Linked DNA regions of Homo sapiens: region 2 is linked to region 1. Evidence: fine-mapped expression QTL. Tissue or cell type: ovary. Region 1 holds a variant in brackets; the other region holds the start of a gene. All regions are shown on one strand. Distances are between the middles of the regions.

Region 1 (8,104 bases):
TCTGGGTGGTCCCAGCAAGGCATGCTATGGGACATGGTGCCACCTCTCCCCAGGGGTGTGGCTACCTGGCTCCCAGTGGCTGCCTCAGTGGCAGGGTGTCTCTGTGGGGGTCACCACATTCCTGTGCTCTGCCTTTTCTCTGCCCAGCCAAGAGGGTCTGATTGGGCTTCCTAAGTCTGGCCTTTTGGGCACTGGAAGTGACCTGCTCAGCTGGAGCCCCACCTTCCCTCTGGGTGCCCTCCCAGCTCACATGCTCCCTGTGGTGGGGAACTCTCTCCCTCCAGAGATGCCTCTCTGGCTGTTGGAAGCCTTTCCCGGGACACCCCCACTGCACCCAGGGAGGACCCTGACCACGAGGCCCATCCCCGCGGCTCCCCTGCAGCTGCTCTTCCGTGTGGTGCTTCTGCAGGGGGCTCTGGCCCCCTCCCTGTGGGAGTCCTGTCTCCTGGTGCCCTGGGGTCCCCACTGGAGAGTATTTCCCTGCCGACAATGTCCCAGGCTTGTGCTCTCCTGTGAGTACAGCCTAGACAGGGGCTGAGTTGGGCCCCCACCCCCAGAGCCTGACCCTGGGGGACTTTAGCTAATTGTGGGCCCCGCTTTCTGGGCCTGGGGACACCTGTGGGCCTTGGGTTCCCTTTGTCTCACTTAAGAAAGGAGTCACGAGCAGTGGTTCAGAGAGGAACAATAAGCCTTTATTGCGGCTGCCCTTCTCCACAAACGCTCAACCTGCTGGCCAGCGGAGAGCCGTGCTGGCAAATTAAAAGTCTCTAAACTTTCTTTATGTCTCCTTGGATGCTCCAGCAGCTTTAACGCTGAACTGGCTGGCCTGGCTGAGAGACAAAGAGGCCAAGCTGGGGTCACGGCCAAGGCCGTAGGACAGGGAGGATCTCACTGAATGGTCCCCCACTGGCCCGTGGATGCAGATGGGGCGGGGTGGGGTGGAGCAGGTGAGGGTCTTGGCTGTGGTGCTAGGGGTCTGGGGCCCATAGGCTTGGGAAGGCCTCTTGGGGCAGTTGGCTGGACAGGGGTATGGGGTGCTGCTTCCTAAGTCTCCATTGTCTATGGATGGCAGACATGGAGGCTCCTCTAGCTGCCTCTGAAGTCCTCTCTTAAGGAAAGCACAGCCTGAAACCAGGGGCAAAGGAAGCCTGTTCTAGACCCCAGAGAGCATTAGCTCCCTTACCACCACTCTCCTGGGTGAGTCCTGAGACTGGGAGGTCACTAGAAGAGGCTGGAGGACCAGGTCTGTGCTACCACAGATGAGCACACTGCCCCTGCCACCTCCCACCAAAAACTTTGGCTCACCAGGGCCGGGTTGAGAAGGTGAGGCTGGGACAGCCCCTGTTAACCCTTGTGGTCCCGGCATTATCCACAGCACCTCTCTTCACCCTCCAGAGTGCCAGGGTTTCTTGTTGTGTGCCAGCTGGGTGCTGGGCCATGCCATCTTTGCAGGACAGCTGAGTTACAGCATCAGCAGGGAGTCACCTGGGCCAAGAAATGTCACCCCTCACCCCACAAAAAACGTGCCAGGATTTGCAGAATAGAGAGGAACTCTGTGGGGGTGTACTGACTTGGAGGGGGCATAAAGGAGCCTTCTGGAATGCTTGAAGTGACCGAGACCTTGATCTGGGTGGTGATTCCATGGGTGAGCACATACATAACAAGCCATCGACTCGCACGCTCTGCTGTATGTATATTGGACATTACGGTGATGAAAAGCAAATAGACATAGGCCCTGCCCTGAAGTACGAATGAATCCCAGCTCTCCTACTTCCCAGCTGGATGACTTTGGGCATGTCACCCAACATCTCTGAGGCTCTGGTCTTCATCTACAAATGGGGAGAACATCACCTACTTCTTTCCCACTAACCTGAGCCCTCCATGAGAACAGAGACTGCACCTGACTCTCCTCTGTGTCCTCCTTGACCCCTGCGAAGGGGCTGGCTCAAGAAATTGCCGATATAATAAGAGCCTCCTCCAGGTCAGAGGGACCTCACAGCTCCCCAGGAAAACATCTCACCTTATTTTACCAAAATCCTAGTAATAACATCTCTCTTGGTGCCTCCTCACATCCCTCCAACTACTCTTCCATAAGGGGCTTGGGGTTACCTCTTTCTTCCTTGGAGAAGTGGGGGAAAAACTAGGGGACTGAGGCTGCGGCAGGGCCTGGAGCCCTTGGGGGTGTTGGGCCAGCAGGGCTTGGTTTGGAGAGGGGCCAGAGAGGGGTTTGCTTTCCTTGGCAGGGGACGGATGGGGTAGAAGAGTGTACCTAGGACAAGGGCCCAGCAGTGAGACCTTTGCTGGGACTGATTCTCTGGGACAAAAGAGGACTTGGGTTTAGGTCATGGCTGAGGAGGATGTTTCCAGCACTGTGCACACCCGGGACATGGCCCCTGCCCGCCAGCACACCCCGTGTCTCCCAGGCCCCATCAGGCTGGACGGCCCAGGCTCCTCTTGGGGGAAGGGCCCCTGCCCTCCATCCCTCTATCTGATTGTCTGCGAGGCTAGTTCTTGGCAATTTCTTGCTCCGTTTCTTTAATCCCGGATTCTCTTCAAGCGCAGAAGGAAGAGGAAAAAGCCAAAGGCCGAGGTGGAGAATAGGGAGGGGGATGTGGGGGATATGGGGGAGGTATGAAAAGAGATGAAGGAGGTCACTCCAGCCTGAGGCACCCAGGTTTCATCCTAATGGGGACAGCAAGTGCCCTTGAGGGTCCAGAAGGGAGCTGGAGCCCCAGGCTGGGGCTGCGTCAGTCCTGCTCTTCAGCCTCTCTAGTGCTGGGAGGTCGGTGTAAATGGTTTGTGTGCTGACACTGCAGGGCTACAGTCATTTCTATAGGCCAAGAACAGAGCCCTGGGGTGAAGGTACTGGCACCTCACCTTAGTTCAGCAACCTCCTAGGCCCTGTGCTGAGACTCAGGCAAGACTCGGGCCAGGGCTCAGACACAGGCTAGGCCAGTGCTGAGGCGTGCAGGCTCCGGAATAGCATCTTCCCCACTGGCTGCTGAGAGCTGGGGGCCCAGGAGGGGCAGGGAGGGCCCTGAGAGGTCAGCTGAGCCAGCACACCTGCGCTCCTCCCGTGCCTTGCCCTGCCTCCCCGCTCAGGCCTCAGAAGCCTTTCTGCTTCCAGAGAAGCAGGGGCGGTGAGGGTCTGTGGCACAAGGGCGAGCCCTGGAGAATGGGGCTTGTGTGGCGTCTGCAGCTTCTTAGAGGAAAAACCTATTGAGAAGCTCAAATCATGGCAGTAATTAGGCTACTTATTTTGTAAAAGTCCAAATTAAATGGAAAATCTGGTGCTAATGAGAATGTTCCATTTTCTCCTTTTATTAAATCTAGCTCTG[TGC/C]CTTCTAAGAGTTTGGGAATAGCCAGCCCCTGATGTCTTTCTCACAGCCAGTTCATATCCTCTGATTGTGGAGTTGCTGAGACAGAACACACTCACAGGGCCTCCAGTTACCGGCTCAGTTGAAAAATGTCCTTCATAAGGCAGCAGCATTAACCCACCCCCAGCCACCCACACCTCCAGCCCTTCCCCCCATCTCCACCAACCCTCTCTGGCCTATCACCATCAGCTGCGTGGGCCCCCAGAAACCCAGACCCAACAGGGAGGGGCTGGTGTGGGTCCAGGAAAGCTGGGCTTCTGGTCTACCCCTTCTGGAGCCCAGCTTCTTCTCTAAAGAGCCTGGGACCCTACCACTTCCAGCTGCCTGCCTCCTGACAACAGTCCCAGGGAGGCTGAAGCCCACAACCTTCTGATTAGACTTGCACTTAGATCCCATAATTACCAATTAGGGGCTTCAGGCAATGCAGTTTGCCTCTCTGGGCTTCAGGTCCTCACCTGTCAATTGGGGGTAGTGCTACTATTAGCCTCGTAGAGTGTTGTGAGTGTGAGTGGAGAGAAGGCATTGCAGAGCACCTGACACACAGCAGGGTGCAGCACCTGTCTATGGCCAGGTCCCTCTGAAGCCTAGTCTCTAGCGAGAGTAGGGATATGCATTCTGTCACTCTAGTCTTTCCAGGATTTCCTCTGGAAGGTTTGGCGGGGGTGGGAAGGGAGGAACTAGAGGAGGAGAATGTCTTGGGATACACCCCCATGCCAGAGTAGGTATTGGGAGGAACAGCCTATCTGGTCCTGGCCAGTAGGATGCCTGGGCTTGGGAACCTGGCTGTCAAGGATAGGGAGGTCAGGGGGTGTATGCGAAAAATCATCCCATTCAAACAAAGAGATAGGAACAGACACATAGACAGACACACACACACAGGCTCAGTCCCAGCCCTCTTCAATGGGGCTGTCGAGGCCTTGGCAATGGGTCCTCAAGGAGACCTGCAGCTTGAAGCATAAGCCACACTTAGAATCTGCATTTCAATTCAATTCCCGGTTAGTCTACCCATAAGGGTTTACCAAGAACCTCAAGCGTTTCTAACACGAGGCTAGAAGCTGGGGAGAGAGCAAAGCCACAGCCACCACAGAATAGGCCCATCAGACTCAGGCTCCTCGTCTTGGTGATGCACATCCTCACCTGAAACTCAGATGTGAAACGTGACTGTCGCTTGACTCTTCTCCCTTCATCATCCCGTCCTTCATTACCCCCATCTATGGTGTCGACTTCTTTCTTAGTTTCCTACCTGATCATGCCCTGATCCCTGCCCCACAAGGCTTCCCTTCCTGCTATCTCATTTCAGCCTCCTCACCAGGATTATTGTAACAGTCTTAGCACTCCAGCCCTCTCTCCTGCAGGCCCCAGAGGGAGCCTCCTAAAATGAGCATTTGAATTTGTCACCCTCTGCTTCAATCTCTCCAATCACTGTAAAGCCTCTGTTATGTTCAGCATAAAATAAAACTTGGTTGTCCACGCATTCTGCATCTCTGTCACCTCCCCAGCCTACTTCTTTTCTGATCATGTCCCCCTTCAGCCCACTCCCCAGTCACACCAAAGAGCCTGTGGTTTCTCAAATGCTAAGTGACCTCTCATACTGCAGGTGGACTCCAGTTGCCTTTGCCTTCTTAGGATTTTTTCTCACTTCTGGGAACAGAATCCTTCTCTCATGTGAGGAGCCAGTTCTATGTGGTTTGGATAAGATGGGCAGGTGATCTAGTCTGTGATCTAGAACAACAAGAACACCTTATTCTTCTAGGGACAATGATTAATGTAGGAATGTGGACATGGCCCAAACAGGACCTGTTAGAATCTTCTCTGGGAATTTTGGCTTGAACTTACAAAAGAGAGCACCACTTACTTGTAATGGTAAGCCAACAGGAAGTGAGTCTGAGGTTTTTGAGGACCATCTGATTCACTGTGTAGAGAAAGTCTATCTGATAGATATAGAAAGAGATAGAGGCCAGGCACAGTGGCTCACACCTGTAATCCCAGCACTTTGGGTGGCCAAGGCAGGAGGATCGCTTGAGCCCAGGAGTTCAAGACCAGCCTGGGCAACATGCTGAGACCCCCATCTCTATTTTCTAAAATTAAAAAAAAAAGAGATTAAAGCTGGCAATTAATTAAGCTTCTGGATCCAGTCTTGCCTGAAGTCATATCACATGGACTGTTCACTTATGTAAATCTTTTTTAACTTTTTTTTTTTTTGGTCTAAGCTAGTTTGAAATCTTGACTAAGACAAGGCTGAATTGATCTACAGTTGATGTTCACACTGATGGCAATTCTCATCTCCCTTGTCTTATTGGAAAATAAGTCAAATCATTTTAAAATTCATTTCAACTCTCAACTCCTTTAAGAAGTCTCTTTTTCAACAACATGATTGTGATGTGATACCCCTACTCCACAGCTTAATTCCTACTGTGGCAATTACCATTTCTGCAACCAAATATGATCATTTTGATGGGAGGACTCCTGTCTAATTCAACTCTATATTCTCTGTACCCAGCACATGACCAGACACCAGGCAGAGGATAGAAAATACGATTCCATTAACATAAAGATGAAAAACAGTCAAAACTCATCAACACTGTTTAGGAACACATACACAAGTGGTAAAACAGTAAGAACAAAGCACAAAAATGAGTACCCTAAAGATAGGGCGAGGGATGATTAGATTCTCATAGAAGTTTGCAACCTAGATCCCTCACATGCACAGTCCACAATAGGGTTCGAGATCCCGTGAGACTCTAATGCCGCGCTGATCTGACAGGAGGCAGAGCTCACTGGCAGTAATGCTCACTGGCCCACCGCTCACCTCCTGCCGTGCGGCCTGGTTCCTAACAGACCACAGACTGGTACTGGACCATGGCCTAGGGGTTGGGGACCTCTGCCCTAAGAGTCAGAGTGGTGGATACCTCTTCCTAGGGAACAGGAAGAGAATACAGCTGGAAAGGGGTATACATAAGGTTTCTGAGATCCTGGAAATGTACTGAGTTTTGTTGTTGTTGTTGTTGAGACAGTGCCTCGCTCTGTCACCCAGGCTGGAGGTGCGGTGGCATGATCTCGGCTCACTGCAAGCTCCACCTCCTGGGTTCACGCCATTCTCCTGCCTCAGCCTCCCGAGTAGCTGGGACTACAGGCACCCGCCACCACACCTGGCTAATTTTTTTTTTTTTTTGTATTTTTAGTATAGACGGGGTTTCACTGTGTTAGCCAGGATAGTCTCGATCTCCTGACCTCGTGACCCACCCATCTCAGCCTCCCAAAGTGCTGGGATTACAGGCGTGAGCCACTGCGCCCGGCCAAAATGTACTGTTTTTTAATCTGGGTGACAGTTACATAGATGTTTACGGTATATTTCTTTAAATTCTGTGTATTAACATATTCTTTTATACATATTATATAGTTCACTACAATAAAGAAAATAAGTGAGGTGCTTTGGACCCAATTTTTTAAATTGTTTTATAACTTTATTGCACTGAAGTCATAGAATCTGTCACTAATATATCAAATTTTTATTATCTGTTAACGCTTCCTTTGTGTCCTATTATATAGTCAGTTTTTATTTATTTATTTATCTATTTATTTTGAGATGGAGTCTCACTCTGTCGCCCAGACTGGAGTACAGTGGCACGATCTTGGCTCATTGCAACCTCTGTCTCCCGTGTTCGAGAGATTCTCCTGCCTCAGCCTCCCAAGTAACTAGGATTACAGGCCCCTGCCACCATGGCCATCTAATTTTTTTTTTTTTTTTTAGACAGAGTCTTGCTCTTGTTGCCCAGGCTGGAGTGCAGTGGCGCCATCTCGGCTCACTGCAACCTCCACCTCCTGGGTTCAAGCGATTCTCCTGCCTCAGCCTCCGGAGTAGCTGGGATTAGAGGCATGCACCACCATTCTCAACTAATTTTGTATTTTTAATAGAGACCAGGCTTCTCCATGTTGCCCAGGCTGGTCTCAAACTCCCGACCTCAGGTGATCCGCCCACCTCAGCCTCCCAAAGTGCTGGGATTACAGGCATGAGCCACCGCGCCTGGCAAGTTTTTAAATGTTCCACTTGAAAACGAAGTGTACTCTTTAATTATTGGAAACAAGATTTTATATATGGACATCAAACAAATGTTAATAATTTTATCTGTTTCATCAATTTCTGGAAAAGGAGTGTTAAAATTTCTCATTACAAATGTAGGTTTGTCAGTTTCTCCCACAAGTCTGTCAATTTTGCTATGTATTTTGCTTAATATCCTCTGTCAATTTTCCCTGATAATCCTGTCATCTTTAAGGAGGTTATAGTATTATGAGCAATCAGGTTCAGCTTCACTATAGATTTCTATTCAATTGTTCTTCTTGTCAGTGAACAGTCACCCTCTTTAAATCTCAAGTTTTTTAAAACCATGACATCTCTTCTGGTTGCTATTAATGTCACTATATCTCATTTCCTTTGATTATTAGTATTTATGATCTTTCCCTATCCTTCTACTTTTAAGCTTTTTGTATAATTATGTTTTAACTATTAGGTCAGTTATAAACAACTTATAACTGGATTTTAAAAATCTTATCTGGGAATATCTCCGAACAAATGGGTCTAAGTCATTTAAATTTATTGTGATTACTGATAAAATTGGAGTTTTTAATACCACCTTTTAAAATTTTTACCATGTATTTTTCTGTTTCTTCCCCTTTCCTACATTCAATTGGATTTATTGGGTTTTTTTATTACCTTTTTTCTTCTCTCT
Region 2 (8,104 bases), 140 kb after region 1:
TTTCTCTTAACTTTCTTCTTCTTTTTTCTTTTTTTTTTATTTTGAGATGGAGTCTCACTCTGTCACCAGGCTGGAGTGCAGTGGCGCGATCTCAGCTCACTGCGACCTCTGCCTCCTGGGTTCAAGCGATTCTCCTGCCTCAGCCTCCCAAGTAGCTGGGATTACAGGCGCATGTCATCACGCCCAGCTAATTTTTGTATTTTTAGTAGAGGTGGGTTTCAGCATGTTGGCCAGGATGGTCTTGATTTCTTGACCTCGTGATCCGCCCCCCTTGGCCTCCCAAAGTGCTGGGATTACAGACATAAGCCACTGCGCCCGGCCTGTCTTCCTCTAATGAAAACTAGGCTGTTGCCTCTGGGTTCTGTTTCCCTTGCAGATCTCCCAAAGTAAGAGCTATTTTTCTTCCCACAGCTTAAAGCCTGGGAATAGAATAGATGCCCAACTTGTTTCCCCTTGCTGCTTCCAAATTGCTTCTTCCTCTTCTTCCTTTAAAAACCATAGCTCCTGGCCAGGCGCTGTGGCTCATGCCTGTAATCCCAGCACTTTGGGAGGCTGAGGTGGGTGCATAACAAGGATCGAGACCATCCTGGCTAACATAGTGAAACCCCATCTCTACTAAAAATACAACAAAAAAATTAGCCGGGCGTGGTGGCGGGCACCTGTGGTCCCTGCTACTTGGGAGGCTGAGGCAGGAGAATGGCGTGAAGCCAGGAGGCGGAGCTTGTAGTGAGCCGAGATTGCACCACTGCACTCCAGCCTGGGCAACAGAGCAAGACTCCATCTCAAAAATAAATAAATAAATAAATAAATAAATAAAAATTTTTAAACAATTAAAAAAAAACACAGCTCCTTAGAAGAGCATGTCATCTGGCTGCCCATTACTTCTTCTGTTCCTGTCACCTTCCAACCTTGTAGTAACTCCACATTCATTAAAGATTTTAACACTTGGATCACTATTTCCCACCTCATTTCTGTCCTCATACATGGGAACTTCAACATAATGTTGTGACCTAGGTTTCCATTGTGGCTTCTTACAACTTCACATGAGCACTCTCACTAATGCCATCTTCTCCTAGACTTCATTTACTATAGATGGGCTGATGATTTCCTATTGTTTCTAGCCCAAACATCTCTTCTGAGCTCCAGGCCCATATATCCAACTGGATATTTCTACTTGGATATTTCATGGAACTTCAAATTCAGCTAGTCAAAATCTGAACTCTTCATCTTTCTCACAAACCTGATTCTTCTATTCTTAAAATCATGTTATATAGAATTAATGTCTACCATTTACCCAAGCTAGAATTTGGTGGCGGAGGGCGGGGGGGAGTGTGGTCATTCCAGACCCCTCTGTATTTCTTAGAGACCACATCCCATTAGTCACCTCCTCCCTAAGCTGCATCTATAGTCCAGGAGTCCAGAGGTTTTCTGACTAAACCTCCCCAGACAGTAAACCTGGTAGCTAAGAGGGCAAATTCTTGAGTAAGCATGCCTGTGTTCAAATCATAGCATCCAGTTTATACTGTGTAATTGTTGGCAAGTAAATTATGTTTTCTGGGGCTCCATTTTCTTACCTGTGAAATGGGTATATAATAATATTGCTTACCTCTTGAAGTTATTGGGAGGAATAATTATGATATGTAAGATGCCTAAAACATAATTAGTACTCTAACTTTTAGTGATGTTAATAACATCAATGATAATAATGCCCGAGTGAAGCCAGCAGTGGCACCCATCTGGCTGCATGAATCAAGGAAAGAGATTCAGAAGATATCCATTGCTTTAAAAAAATCAAACAATTTTTTTTTAGAGACAGGGTCTCACTCTGTCACCCTGGCTGGAGTGGGTGCCCCTACTGGCTTCATTCAGGCATTATTATCATCTTATATATCATAATTAATTGTGGTTTCACACAATCATAGCTCACTGCAGCCTCAAACTCTTGGGCTCAAGTGATCTTCCCACCTCAGCTTCCTGAGTAGTTGGGACTACAGGTGCACACCACCATGCCTGGTTAATTTTTTACATTTTTTTGGTAGAGATTAGGGCTCTCCCTATGTTGCCCAGGCTGGCCTTGAACTCTTGGCCTCAAGCCATCCTCCAGCCTTGGCCTCCCAAAGCCCTGGGATTATAGGTGTGAGCCACTGTGCCCAGTCTCAACTGCTTTTTAATCAGATTTCCAGCCAATCCTTCATTCAGACCCACTCTGCACCCTTGGCTTTAAAGGAACCCAGTACCTCCAATTCTTAAGAGCATGGGTTCTGAGGGGCAAATTAGTTCACTCCTTACAGGCTTTCAGTCCACAGGCATTTAACTTTTTATGCTCTACACCTGCACTGTCTACTGTGGGCGCCAACGAGCCACACTATCGTGCTGATAAAATTTGAAATATTTTTGCTATCTTGGTTTAAAATATTATTAAAATAAATTTTACTTATTTTTACTTTTTAAATGTGGCTACTGGAAAAATTTAAATTACATATGTGGCTGGTATTATGTGTCTATTGGACAGTGTTGTGTGCGTCTTACAAAATTGACATTTCTCATCTGCTGTCATGTTTTCTATCATTGCATTTAGTCTTGTAGTTTATATACTTTATTTCTTTATTTTCCTTTTTGGGCACTGTCCCAGGAAAGCAAAGATAAATGCATATGTTACATCTGTCATGTTTAACTGGAAGTTCTACCTAAGCTTTTCACAATGTAGCTCCTGCTTATATTTGTGCACTTCGTGTCCTGTCACTACTCTATGGCCCTGCCAAAATGAATTACCAATAGCTTTCTGAACACACCAGGAAGCTTCCAGATTTGCCTTTATTTTTTTGGCCTCCTTTTTCCGGAATACCTTTCTAACCCCTCCCACCTGTCTGCCTATAAGTTACTCATTTTTCAACAGCTAACTCAATTTCACCTTCTCAAAGGGGCTTTTCTTGACTTTTCCTCGTACCAGTTGAGAAGACTGCTCGGGGATCCAGAATATTTCCTGCATTTTTTTTGTTTGGATAATTATCTGTCCTACAAAGGGAATCCATTTTATTCATCAGACCCTGTAGTGCCAAGTTGAGGGTCTAATACATAGTAAAAACTAAAATAATGTTAAATGAACGAATGAAGAGAGTAACAAAGAACGGTGGGATTGTAGAGAAAGGAGAGGCTGACTGAAAACGTTTCGAGAGAGCAGTGTTTTTAAGCTGTTCTTCAGAGAAGTTTTTGACAACTGGAGATGGTGTCAGGAATTTTCCAGGCAGTGGGAACAGGACAAGCAAAGCTTCCCTGAAGACAAGCAATATGCTAAAGAAATAGCAAATCATCCAGTTTGGAAGGAGCATTGGTAAGACCAGATCATGCAGGGCGTTGAGGTTATAGAAAGGAGTTTAACTATTGTTCTGAAGATAATGGAGAGTTAAAAGGTTTAAGCTGGAGAGAAAGAGAATTAGTCTTGTGTTTTAGCATTATCACCTGTGGCTGCAGACGGATAATGAATGCGAGGGGCATGAGTGGAAGCTGGAAGACAGCGAGATCATGGAGATGAGGAGAAACTGGATGTTGTGATCTACGGGTGGGTGGGGGGCAGTGGTGGTAAGTGGGGATAGAGATCCGGGCACGACCGCCGGATGTGTAGGCGGTAGAATGCACAGGACTCAGTAAAAGATGAACATGGGGAGTGAGGGAGGAGTTTTTAGTTAGTATGAACGGGAAGGCGAGGGTACCATTTACAGCGACGGGTAACCACGCGGGAGGAGCAGGTCAACTCCCGACAGTGGAGGTGAAGATGCGTGCGCCTCGCGCACCTTGTCCCTCGCGCGACGCCGTCCGCGCCGCCCGCGGTTCGGTCGGGAGCGGCAGCCCGTGCTCCGGTTCCGGTTCCGGTTCCGGCTGGCGTCTGCACCTGCGACCACCGTGAGCAGTCATGGCGTACTCCACAGTGCAGAGAGTCGCTCTGGCTTCTGGGCTTGTCCTGGCTCTGTCGCTGCTGCTGCCCAAGGCCTTCCTGTCCCGCGGGAAGCGGCAGGAGCCGCCGCCGACACCTGAAGGTAAGAGCAGGCCAGCTCCCTCTGAGCTTCCCGGCGCCGAAGAGTACGGAGAACGCTGCTTGAGGGAGGGGTGACTCTGAGAGTCTGCAGCCTTCACCGAAATATCCACCAAACTGACTGGAGAGGGCGGGCGAGACGGCGTTGAAGGGCCAATGCCCACGGTTCCGTTGTTATCAGCGGGTGGCGGCCCAGATGGTTCTGCTGCTGGAAGGGTCAGGAACGTATGCATGCAGGTCTGTGCATCCTCTAGGTGGCCTTGCGTACTCCCGTTTAGGCGCAGTCCCTTCTCTCTTACCCCGCTGGCTTAACTCATCTCGTCACCATTTGTTCACGTGCTTTGAGTCAAGGGTTCCCAGTTGGGTTTCCCTCTTTAGGTTTTCCGTGTACTTTCTGACGCGCCGCTTGGTACGAAATCAAGGCAAATGGAATTGGTACAGCAAACCTTAAGTCGTTATGTTTTTTCAACTTGGTGCTGGGCGCTCACTGCTTCAGGCTCTTCTTGTGCCTTTAAAAATATATCTTGAAGATTTTAATAACCCCAGTTTCAGTTACTGAGGTGGTTATGAACAAATTATTACGTTCCCCTTATTGAAACAGTATTTATCTGTTAATTCTTCGTTGTTGGCATGATGTATGTGGTGTTTAAAAATTCATCCTCTTAGCTGCACTGGGGCCTTTTACAGAATGAGTGTAAAGGCACGGTGCTGAAGGCTGGGAGAAGGAACCAGAACAGTTTTCTATAGGTCATGAAGTTCTACTGGTAACTTTCTCCTGTAAATTATCCTTGTAATATCTTTGAGACATGATTTTACGGTGTCTGAACACTTCCAGTAATGTTTAAACTGTTGATTGCTGGACAGCTCCTTTTGAACTGTAATCCACTTCCGTCTGCTTTATGCACATTGACTGTAGTTCCATTCTCTTGAGCATCATACACACTATAAATGCAAAGCACCAAGCTTTAGGGGTGGAGGGCAGGTTGAACACATAATTCTGTTTACAGAATTTGCCTGATAATCTTTATGCTTGTAAGACTATCCACTTGGGACGGACTTCTAAAACATCTTTGCGTATTTGTTCTTTTTTTTTCCTTTCTGTCTTATTGCAATAATCCCAAAGATTTTTACCTGCTTTGTCTAATGATATTGTCTACTTTGAAGAAGAGTCAATTCATGATGATCCTGAACAGTGAAGATTCTTCGAAAACTTTTTTTTTTTTTTTTTTACTTTCCATTATGGTGAATTATCTTGAACAAGTACTATTGACTGTGAGTGGGAGACACTCTTCTGAACGTTGTAGAAAATGTAGAGTGGAGATTAGACATGGGTTGTTCCCTTGAGAACTCAAGTGTTGGTATTCAGTGTTCTCATGTTAGGATCTTTGTACCTTCAGTTCTCTTTATTCCTGAAGTGCTGTGCTTTTCCCTCAGTGCCCTTCTCATCATTCAAATTTCTGCTCAAATGAAACCTCCTCAGAGAGACTTCCCCTGATGACACTAACTAAAATAACTCTTTTCTCCCATCATTCTCTATTTTATCATGTTTTATATTCTTCATGATAGGCATCACTATATGATATGGAATATTCTTAAGTGTTTACTTGTTTGTTTTTTTGTCTTCACCTTCTAGAATGTAAGTTTGCAAGGGTAGGGACTTTGTCTTGTTTACCACTGTTTCTTCAGTACCTGGCATATAATGGGCAGTCAATAAATACTTTAAGATTATTAAGCTACCAATACTGTAAATTCTGTTTTTGACAAGGAGAAGCTACTGAAGTAGTATAACCTAGGAAAAAACTTACCTTGAATGGTACATTCCAGTAACTGAAACTTGCAGCAAAAAATCTTAACCATTTTGGGGTTACATACACCATTGAGAATCTTATAAAAGCTATGTATTTTCTTTCTTTCTCTCTCCTTCCTCCCTCTGTCCCTCCCTCCCTCCTTTCCTCTCTTCCTGGCCCCCTTTCCCTTTCTCTTTCCCTTTCCCTGGGTCTCACTCTGTCACCCAGGCTGGAGTGCAGAGTCATGATCACAGCTCACTGCAGCCTCTACTTCTAGGGCTCAACTGATCCTCCCACCTCAGCCTCCCAAGTAACTGGGACTACAGGCACATGCCACCATGCCTGGCTAATTAAAAAAAATTTTTTTTGTTTTTGGTTGAGATGGGGGTCTCATTGTATTGTCCAGGCTGGTGTCGAACTCGTGGGTTCAAGTGATCCTTCTGCCTCAGCCTTCCAAAGTGCTGGGATTACAGGCTTGAGCAACTGCACTCAGCCTAAAACTGTATGTTCTCTCTAGAAAAAGGTACATACTCTTATTGTACTCAGAATTTCAGTATCAATTCAGAGAATTCTCAGAACCCAGAAATCCCTGCTTTGAAGAAAGGAATAACCCTGAGTATTTGAAAATTCTTAAAAATACATGTTGTTATGTCTTCCATTTTTGCCCATTGATGTGCATGAAACAAGCACAGTTCCCTTTCCACATGAAAGCCTTTAAGATAGTCTTTTAACAAATATTTATGATGTACCATATCACATACTGTGCACATAGTGTATAGACACTATGTATTCCAAGAAAAAATGAGCGAACTCCATGCTTTGAGGCGGCCACAGTTTAGTAAAGGAAAGTAGACATGTCAACAGATAAATGCAAAACAGACATGTTAGCAGATAAATGCAAGAGTGTCAGTCACAGTTACTCAAGTCTGCGCAGGGAACAATGGAGACATGTATGCAATGGTCAGTGTTATTGGGACTTAAGAAGGGTTTCATAAACCAGGTGTGACAGCTCATGCCTGTAATCCCAGCATTTTGAAAGGCTGTGGTGGAAGGATTGCTTGAGCCTGGGAGTTCGAGACCAGCTTGGGCCACATAACAAGACCCCCATCTCTACAAAATAAGTTTGTTTTTTTTCAATTAGCTGGGCATGGTGGTGTGCACCTGTAGCCCCAGCTACTCTGTAGGCTGAGGTGGGAGGATCGTTTGAAGTTTGGAGGTCAAGGCTACAGTGAGGTGTGATTGTGTAACTGCACTGCAGCCTGGGCAACACAGTGAGACTCTGCCAAAAAAAAAAACAAAACAAAACAAAAAAAAAACCCCAAAAAACAGGTTTCATAGAACATAGAGGAGGGAAGTCTTTTTTTTTTTTGATAACAGCTTTCTTGAGATCTAATTTATATATCATACAATTCACCCACTTAAAGTGTACAATTTATTGGGTTTCAGCATATTCAGAGTTGTACAACCATCACTACAACCAATTTTAGAATATTTCTTCAGCCCCCAAAGAAACCCTGTACTTTTTAGCTATTACTCCACAAATCCCCCAGCCCACCTCCAGCCCTAGGCAACCACTCATCTACTTTATGTCTCTATAGATTTGCCTGTTCTGGACATTTGGTATAAATGAAATCATATAATATCTGATCTTTTGTGACTGACGTCTTTTAACTAGCATAATGTTTTCAAGGTTCATCCATGTTGTAGCATGTAGCAGTACTTTTTTTATGGCTGAATAATATTTCATTGTGTGGATATACCACATTTCATTTATTCATTAATCAATTGATGGACATTGAATTTTTGCCTTTTAGCTATTATGAATAATGTTGCTACTGATATCTGTGTACAAATTTTTGTGTAGACTTAATGTTTTCATTTCTCTTGAGTGTATACATTTGGAAAATGTGAGCATTCCAGTGTGGCTGGAACTAAGCGTGGAATTTCTAGGTTGTATGGTTATTACATGTTTAACCTTTTGAGGAACTGCCAGACCATTTTCCAAAGCAGCTGTACCATTTTACATGACCACCAGCAGTGTAAGAGGGCTTCTGGTTTCTTGTCAATACTTGTTTGTTATCTGTCTTCTTGATGATAGCCATCCTAGTAGGAATGAAATGGTATCTCATTGTGATTTTATTTGCATTTCCCTGATGACTAATGACATTGAGCATTTTTTGTGTGTTTATTCACTCTTTGTCTATTTGTATATCTTGTTTTGGAGAAATGTCTATTCAGGTCCTTTTAACCCTCTTTAAAAGTCAGATTACTTGTCTTTTTTTTTTTT

Direction of the effects. Alleles are on the strand shown, and positions count from the first base shown. SD is a standard deviation of normalised expression in the study named.
In carriers of allele TGC in region 1, the expression in ovary of the gene that starts at base 3,875 in region 2 tends to be higher than with C alone (small effect, 0.27 SD a copy in GTEx).

What was found. PIP is the estimated chance that this variant, and not a neighbour inherited with it, causes the effect.
Region 2: RIC3 starts here. The variant in region 1 is fine-mapped to the expression of RIC3 in ovary (GTEx, PIP above 0.99).

What each region holds. Positions count from the first base shown.
Region 1 is chr11:8,305,879-8,313,982 of GRCh38, reverse strand. No RefSeq gene overlaps it. Among named protein-coding and RNA genes, the nearest start is that of LMO1, 46 kb to the right of the region's middle. The variant TGC/C (reference allele first, on the strand shown) is at 3,339.
Region 2 is chr11:8,164,796-8,172,899 of GRCh38, reverse strand. RIC3 (RIC3 acetylcholine receptor chaperone) reads left to right here and starts at 3,875. Exons shown (of 6, transcript NM_001206671.4): 1 at 3,875-4,034. The coding sequence starts at 3,911. It overlaps RIC3-DT (RIC3 divergent transcript), which reads right to left and starts at 3,830. Exons shown (of 5, transcript NR_187234.1): 1 at 3,711-3,830; 2 at 2,912-3,015.